Regions from separate parts of the Homo sapiens genome. Here region 1 is linked to region 2. The links come from fine-mapping of genetic effects on gene expression. A gene starts in region 2. The other region holds a variant in brackets. All regions are shown on one strand. Distances are between the middles of the regions.

Evidence for each region. PIP is the estimated chance that this variant, and not a neighbour inherited with it, causes the effect. A credible set is the group of variants that fine-mapping cannot tell apart.
Region 1: its variant is the best candidate, but not a certain one, in a credible set for the expression of SPMIP8 in ileum (GTEx, PIP 0.54).

What each region holds. Positions count from the first base shown.
Region 1 is chr16:58,656,323-58,660,841 of GRCh38, forward strand. No RefSeq gene overlaps it. Among named protein-coding and RNA genes, the nearest start is that of SLC38A7, 26 kb to the right of the region's middle. The variant C/T (reference allele first, on the strand shown) is at 2,165.
Region 2 is chr16:57,974,481-57,978,480 of GRCh38, forward strand. It overlaps SPMIP8 (sperm microtubule inner protein 8), which reads left to right and starts at 2,064. Exons shown (of 8, transcript NM_199456.3): 1 at 2,064-2,154; 2 at 3,335-3,559. The coding sequence starts at 3,337.

The DNA of each region.
Region 1 (4,519 bases), 680 kb after region 2:
AAAATACAAAAAATAATCAGGTGTAGTGGTGCATGCCTGTAATCCCAGCTGCTTGGGAGGCTGAGGCAGGAGAATCCCTTGAACTGGGGAGGCAATGGTTGCAGTGAGCCAAGATGATGCCACTGTACTCCAGCCTGGGCAACAGAGCAAGACTCCGTCTCAAAAAAAAAAAAGGCCTGGCACAGTGGCTCACGCCTGTAATCCTAGCATTTTGGGAGGCCGAGTTGGGCAGATCACGAGTTCAGGAGTTCAAGACCAGCCTGGTCAACATGGTGAAACCCCATCTCTACTAAAAATACAAAAATTAGCCGGACATGGTGGCACACCTGTTAATCCCAGCTACTCGGGAGGTTGAGACAGGAGAATAGCTTGAACCAGGGAGGGAGAGGTTTCAGTCAGCCAAGAGTGAACCGAGATTGTGCCACTGCACTCCAGCCTGGGGCACAGAGGAAGACTCCGTCTTGGGGCGGGGTGGGGGGCAGGAAATAAAGAAAGACACATGGATGAATGGATGAAGGACAGATGGATACATGAATGGATGCATGGATACATATGTGCATGAACTGGCTGAATGGAATCCAGGGTGACCCGGGAAGAGAAAAGTCAAGAGCTGGCCATAGGATCACCAACCCAAAGCACAGCCCATGAAATCTCAAAATGGGAATGCTGAAAGGTTGGAGAAGCTCCCGGCTTTCAGAGGAGGAGACTGTAGGACTTGCTCCTGGCTCAGAGGTCATTCATGAGGGAGCTAGGAAGGAGTTCAGAGTCCTCTGGCGTTCCTTATCTTTTTATTGACAGAGTGTAATTCTATGCTCCTTCTTTGCCCTTATATCACCCTTTTTTCTTCTTTTTTTTTTTTTTTTTAGACAGGGCCTCACTCTGGTCACCCAGGCTGGAGTGCAGTGGTGCAATCTTGGCCCGCTGCAGCCTTGACTTTCCAAGCTCAGGTGATCTTTCTACCTCAGACTCCCAAGTAGCTGGGACTACAGGCGTGTGCCACCATACCCAGCTAATTGTAGTTTTAGTAGAGATGAGGTTTCACCATGTTGCCCAGGTTAGTCTTGAACTCTTGGGCTCAAGTGACTCACCTACCTTGGCCTCCCAAAATGCTGGGATTACAGGTGTGAGCTGCTGTGCCAGGCCCTCTTGTATCATCTTAATCGTTTTATTTTAAACAAATGAATCCCCTTCCCTGTCTCCCATAATAAAATGCAGTTTATCGAGGATGAGGCTATGACTTGAAAACTTTTTTTTTTTTTTTTTTGAGATGGAGTCTTGCTCTGTCACCCAGGCTGGAGTGCAATGGTGCAATCTCAGGTCACTGCAACCGCCGCCTCCCAGATTCAAACGACTCTCGTGCCTTGGCCTCCCAAGTAGCTGGGATTACAGACGCGTGCCACCATGCCCAGCTGATTTTTGTATTTTTAGTAGAAATGGGGTTTCACCACGTTGCCCAGGCTGGTCTCAAACTCCTGGCCTCAAGTGATCCACCCACCTAGGCCTCCCAAAGTGTTAGGATTACAGGCATGAGCCACTGCGCCCCACCCCATTCTCATTTTTGACCAACAACCAAAGCCCAAGGGATGTCATTCAGTTTTAGCTGGTGGCTGGGAATCAGGTTCCTGGTCCAACCACTGACCCTCCAGGAGATGGAACTAGTCACATCCCCAGCAAGACCCTCTTTCTCCACGTTGGGCCTTCAGAAGAGACCTCACTGAGTGTGCAGGGTGCAACTGTAGTTAGTGGGATGTCAGTGAAATGACACATGACCCAGGTCCTCTTTTCCAGGAACTAGGGAAGCTTGCTATTTAGAGTGATGTGAGGTGAATCCTCTTATGTGAAGAATTCCATCCTGATTTACTTAAGGTACTCTTTGATGCCAAATGTAACCTTTTAAAAGAATAACAACAGTCAATGGTTTATTTATTTATTTTTTCATTTATTTCTTCAATCATCCCTCATTATGGGCAAGGTACTTTCTATGAATTCCATATAATTCTTGCAAAAACCCTTTGATCCAAGTATTTGTGTGTATTTTCCAGATTATGTGCTAGACAAAATGGCCACAAGTTCTTTGTCACTTCTCTCTTGAAGAGATGGGGTCTAGCTCCCCTCCACTTGAATCTTGCTGGGCTCTGTGACTCACTTGCCTGAGAGAATGCTA[C/T]GCAAGTGGCATTCTGAGACTCCTGTAACTGAAGATGCTTCTCTCTGGGCCTCTTGAAATGCTCACTATTGGGCTGGGCATGGTGGCTCACACCTGTAACCCCAGCACTTTGGGAGACTGAGGTGGGCAGATTGCTTTGCACTCAGGAATCCAAGATCAGCCTGGGCAACATGGCGAGACCCCATCAAGAAAACACAAAAGACCCCTACAAAAAAAATACAAAAAATTAGCTGGGTGTGGTGGCATGCCCCTTGTAGTCCCAGCTACTCGGGAGGCTGGGGTGGGAGGATCAGGGAAGCAGAGGTTGCAGTGAGCCCAGATCACACCACTGTTGGGACTCTCCCAAGAATGCAGCCACCACACTATGAGAAGTTGAAACCACATGGAGAGATCATGTGCAGATGCTCCAGATAACAGCTCAGGCGAGTTCCCAGCCAGCAGTCAGCAAGTGAGTGCGCCATCTTGGACACTGTGCCCCAAGTAAGCCTCCACATGGCTGCAGCTCTAGCTCTAACTAACACTACACAGAAGAGAAGAACCACCCAGCTGATCCTGGTCAACCCACAGGATTGTTACGAAAGTAAACTTGTGTTTAAAGCCTCTAAGTTTTGGGGTGGTTTATTATGCAACAATAGAGAACTGGAGAGATGAGAAAGCTAAGCATCAGATTACTCCTGTTTTTGCAGCTGATGAAATTAAGATCCAGGGAAGTTAAATAACTTACTTGAGGTTACATAGCTAAGGAGCCAATGGAGGAATTAGTTGGGAGTCAGACTTTGATCTTTCGGTCTCCAAAGCCCAAGTTTTATGCATTCTGCTCAGCGGGCTTTTCTCCATATCTGACTCCCACACCAAGTGCTTACAAGTATGTGGGACATTAGGATGAGGATGTCATTTTTTGTTGTTGTTGTTGTTGTTGTTTAAATAATTTTCTTTTCTTTTCTTTTTTTTGAGACGGAGTCTCGCTCTGTCACCCAGGCTGGAGTGCAGTGGCGCGATCTCGGCTCACTGCAAGCTCCATCTCCCGGGTTTACGCCATTCTCCTGCCTCAGCCTCCCCAGCAGCTGGGACCACAGGCGCCTGCCACTACGCCCGGCTAATTTTCGTGTTTTTAGTAGAGATGGGGTTTCACCGTGTTAGCCAGGATGGTCTCCATCTCCTGACCTTGTGATCCACCTGCCTTGGCCTCCCAGAGTGCTGGGATTACAGGCATGAGCCACCGCACCCGGCTTTTTTTTTTTTTTTTGAGATGGAGTCTCACTCTGTCTCCAGGCTGGAGTGCAGTGGTGCGATCTCGGCTTACTGCAACCTCTGCCTCCCAGTTTTGAGCAATTCTCCTGCCTCAGCCTCCCAAGTAGCTGGGACTACAGGCATGTGCCACCATGTGCAGCTAATTTTTGTATTTTTAGTAGAGAAGGGGTTTCACAATGTTGGCCAGGATGGTCTTGATCTCTTCACCTCGTGATCTGCCTGCCTCGGCATCCCAAAGTGCTGGGATTACAGGCGTGAGCCTCCGCGCCCGGCAATTTGTATTATTTTCAACCACCCACCTGCTAGCCCCAAGCCTCACCTTTGCCTTCCATGTGCCTGAGCAGGGCCACCTGCATTGGACTGTGACGTCAGTGAGATATGAACGTTTATGGTGTTAAGCCACTGGGATTTTAGGATTTATCTGTAGCATCTCTTAACTAATGCATCTTTTTTTTTTTTTAGACACAGTCTTGCTCTGTCGCCCAGGCTGGCATGCAGTGGGGAGATCTTGACTCACTGCAACCTCCGCCTCCCAGGTTCAAGCGATTCTTGTGCCTCAGTCTCCAGAGTAGCTGGGACTACAGGTATGTACCACCACGCTGGGCTAATTTTTTCTTTTTTTTTGGAGATGGAATCTTACACTCGACCAGGCTGGAGTGCAGTGGTGCCGTCTCGACTCACTGCAACCTCCGCCTTCCAGGTTCAAGCGATTTTCCTGCCTCAGCCTCCCGAGTAGCTGGGACTACAGGCACACACCACCATGCCTGGCTAATTTATTTTGTATTTTTAGTAGAGACAGTGTTTCGCCATGTTGGCCAGGCCTCAAGTGATCTGCCCATCTCGGCCTCTCAAAGTGCTGGGATTAAAGGTGTGAGCCACTGCGCCCAGCCCAGTTTTTTTTTCTGTTTTTTTTTTTTTTTTTTTTTTTTTTTTTGAGACGGAGTCTCACTTTATCGCCCAGGCTGGAGTGCAGTGGTGCAGTCTTGGCTCACTGCAACCTCTGCCTCCCGGGTTCAAGCGATTTTCCTGCCTCAGCCTCCCAAGTAGCTGGGACTACAGGCATGTGCCATCACGCCCAGCTAAGTTTTTGTATTTTTAGTAGAG
Region 2 (4,000 bases):
CCATTTAATTTTCATATTTTTTGTAGAGACAGGGTTTCGCCATGTTTCCCAGGCTGGTCTCGAACTCCCGGGCTCAAGCAATCCACCCACTCGGGGTTCCCAAAGGGCTGGAATTACAGGCGTGAGCCACCGCCCCGGCCTAACTCATGATTTTTAACACATTGACTGAACTGTGCAACTCTTGCCACATCTGGTTTTAGAACATTCCCGTTGCCCCAGTAAGACCCCTCACACCAGATGATAACCACTCTTCATTCGTACACCCCAGTCCCAGGCAACCACACATCTGCTTTCTGCGTCTATAGATTTGTCTTTCCTGGACATTTTATATAAATGGGTCATACAATATGTGAGTTTTCACATCTGGCTTCTTTGATGTAGCGTAATGTTTTATGAGGTTCATCCACCTCGTAGCTTGTATCAGAACTTCATTTCTTTTCATTGCCCAAGAGTATTGCATGGTATAGACGCACCACAGTTTATCCACTCATCAGTGGACACAGGTTGTTTCCACTTTTTGGCGATACATCATGTTGCTATGAACATTTGTGTGCAAGTCTTTGTGAAGATATATACTTTTTTTTTTTTGAGACGAAGTCTTGCTCTTGCCGCCCAGACTGGAGTGCGATGCTGCGATCTCGGCTCACTGCAACCTCCGCCTCCCAGGTTCAAGCGATTCTCCTGCCTCAGCGTCCTGAGTAGCTGGGATTACAGGCTTGCACCACCACGCCCAGCTAATTTTTGTGTTTTCAGTAGAGACAGGTTTTCACCATGTTGGCCAGGCTGGTCTCAAACTCCCAACCTCAAGTGATCTGCTCACCTCAGCCTCCCAAAGTGCTGGGATTACAGGTGTGAGCCATCGTGCCTCACAATATACTTTCATTTCTCTTGGGAAGCCTCCTGGGGTAGAATCTTCCAGATGACCCAATCATATGGTACATTTCTGTTTCATTTTTTAAGAAACTGATAAACTGTTTTAAAAGTAGTACTCCATGTCTTGACCAGGGTGGGTGGTAGTTATACGGGGTCTCATTTTGTAAATTATTAGTTACATTAGATATTTATTCACTTTCTGTATTTCTTCTATTTTATAACTTTAAAAGAGTCAAGAAATAAATTGGGGGTGGGGTGGTGAGTGGAGTCAACTCTGGGAAGGTTTTTTGTAAGGGGTAGCAGTTAGGAATGCTGTTCTGGAAGCTGTATGGAGCACTGGAGGAGGAGCAACTGGGGAAACAAATCCTACAAGAATTTCACAGGAGGGGCTCCAAGACCCATCAGGTTCAGCCCCTGGGCAGGTATATGCAAAAGCACATGCCAATATATGCAAATAAGTTAGGATCTCCTGGGGTTTCCTCACCTTGGGGGTCTGTCTCTAATGGTTGTGACCAGGATGGTGGGCAGGCCCCAGGGCTTTGGGGTGCTGGCCTTGGGCACTCACAGCCTGGCTTTTCTGGGAGCCTGCAGTCCTGCAGGGGCTGAGGGTGGAGTATCATCTGCTAATCCCTGGCCTGCTGAGTCCACCACTCTCCCTGATCCCCTCACGCTTACCCTGGATACTGGCCACAGCTAATCTCCACTCCTGGAGACTCAAGGGCTGGCAGACAGTGCAGTGCCCTCTTCCCTGAGGGTTCCAGGGAGGGGAGATCCCTCTCAGCATCCAGATCCTCCTAACGGCAGATCCTAGAGTCCTTGCCTAACACAGAGGAGAGCCTTGAGTCCCAGAGAGAGGCGGTAATTAGCCCAGGATTACACAGCCTGCAGTGGGCTCAGTAGCCATTTCTGGCCTGCCTTGGCCTGACTACCTCCAGGGAACCCCAGCTCCCCATCTGACATTTCCCAAGATGCCTGGCCTGTGCTAAGGCCTGGGAGACCACAGCCTTCAGGAAGGCTGGAAGGGAGTGGCCAGAGCACAGGAATTCTGGCACAGGCTCTTGTTAGAGCCTGTAGTTGCCAGGGTTGCTAAGGAGTGGGTGCCTCAGAATCAGGCTGCAATGGGCATTGTCTGTGCACAATGTTCCTTTATTCTGCTGCTGTCCATAATAAGGGCTCGTCCACCTCCCTTCCTCTTCTGCCCATTGAGCAGTCAAAGAACTGAAAGTCCTTATAAGCCTGTGCACCTGGGCCTGGGCCCTACAGATAAGGTAGCTGCTATTGGTGAGTCAGAAGCAGGGAGCCCTTGCTCTCTTCCCCATATCCGTGATCCCCCTCCCTGTCCCTCCCCAGGCAGTCACATCCCCTAAGGCAGCTTCCCCATGCCTTGTCACCATGCCCCCTCCCTGCTCCTCCATGATCTAAGGTCCTCTCTCCTCCTGCCACCCTAGCTTCCACCTCCACCTCTCACCTCTAACTCAGGGTCAGGAAGAAAGCAAGCTGTCTCAACAAATTCTCACTAAAGTGTAAATGACTGAAAGGCTCCTGGGACTATCTGCTTTTTAAAGGGAGGCACTGGGTATCCAGTAATGCTTTTCTAGTTTAAATATATCATGTTGCTCCCCTTCCTGAAAATCTTTCTGAGTCAATCTGTAGAATTTTGGGTAAATAGCTAGGGCAAGTCCATAATTATTCACCCAGAGGTATACGGCATACTAAGCTACATTCTGAACCCGCTTGCTGCTGCACTTTCCTGCTTATTATTTAAGAATAGACTCGCCAGGCAAGGTGGCTCACACCTGTAATCCCAGCACTTTGAGAGGCTGAGGCGGGTGGATCACTTGAGGTCAGGAGTTCGAGACCAGCCTGGCCAACACAGTGAAACCCCGTCTCTACTAAAAATACAAAAACTAGTCACATGTGGTGGTGGATGCCTATAATCCCAGTTCCTCAGGAGGCTGAGGCAGGAGAATCACTTGAACCCAGGAGACAGAGGTTGCATTGAGCCAAGATGGCGCCACTGTACTTCAGTCTGAGCAGAAGAGTGAGACTGTCTCAAAAAAAAAAAAAAAAAGAAAAGAAAGAAAGAAAAAAAAACGAATAGACTCAAATACCACCTCTTTTAGACCATTCCTTGAATGTCCTAACCCCAGCCTCCCCAGAAACACACACTCTGTACTGACCTCCCTCACAGCCATGGCACAATGTGAGTGTGTGTGTGTGTGTGTGTGTGTGTATGTGTGTGTTGGAAGGGGAGTGGGAGGGTTGTCTCTGTTATCTTCTGTTATCTGAATGTTCCTGCCACCTCATGCTGAGCTCCAGAAAAATGGCCTGGCACACAGTAGGTGCTAAATAAATGTTTGGCAAGTAGACATCGGCACTGGCCAAGGTTGTTTTCATGCAGAGAAGGGTGTCTGGCCAGCATGAGCCCAGGGTGAGCCCCTTAGAACCCTCTGCCCCCCAGCTATGGCCCGCATCATTGACCTGGTGCCCTGGGACGATGGCTCCACACATGTGTATGCCTCCCCGGCCATCCTGCTTCCCATGGAGCGGCAGCGCAACCAGCTGGCGGGCGTGAAGCAGCAGCTCTACCACCCAGCCCTGCCCACCCTGCGCCACATGGACAGGGACACCGTCAAGGCCTGCCTTCCTGATGAGCACTGCCAGTCCACCACCTACTGCCGCAAAGGTTAGGACACCAGTGTAGGATCCCCTTTGGGGAAGGGGCAGATGGTTTCAGGAAAGAGGGAGACAGATGCAAGGATGAAAGAGGCCAGTCCCAGCTCTGCTGCTCCCTGCCCAGGACACTTTGGCCAGGTCTGAGCCTCTGTTTACTGCTCAGTACAATGAGGATAATTGACAAGGCCTACCTCAAAGTGTTGTTGTGGGGTTAGAAGGAGATAAGGCACAAAAAACACTTAGAGGCTGGGCGCAGTCCCAGCACTTTGGGAGGCCAAGGCAGGCTGATAACCTGAGGTCAGGAGTTTGAGACCAGCCTGGTCAACATGGTGAAACCCCATCTCTACTAAAAATACAAAACTTAACCAGGCGTGGTGGCAGGCACCTGTAATCCCAGCTACTTGGGAGGCTGAGGCATGAGAATTGCTTAAACCTGGGAGGCGGAGGTTGC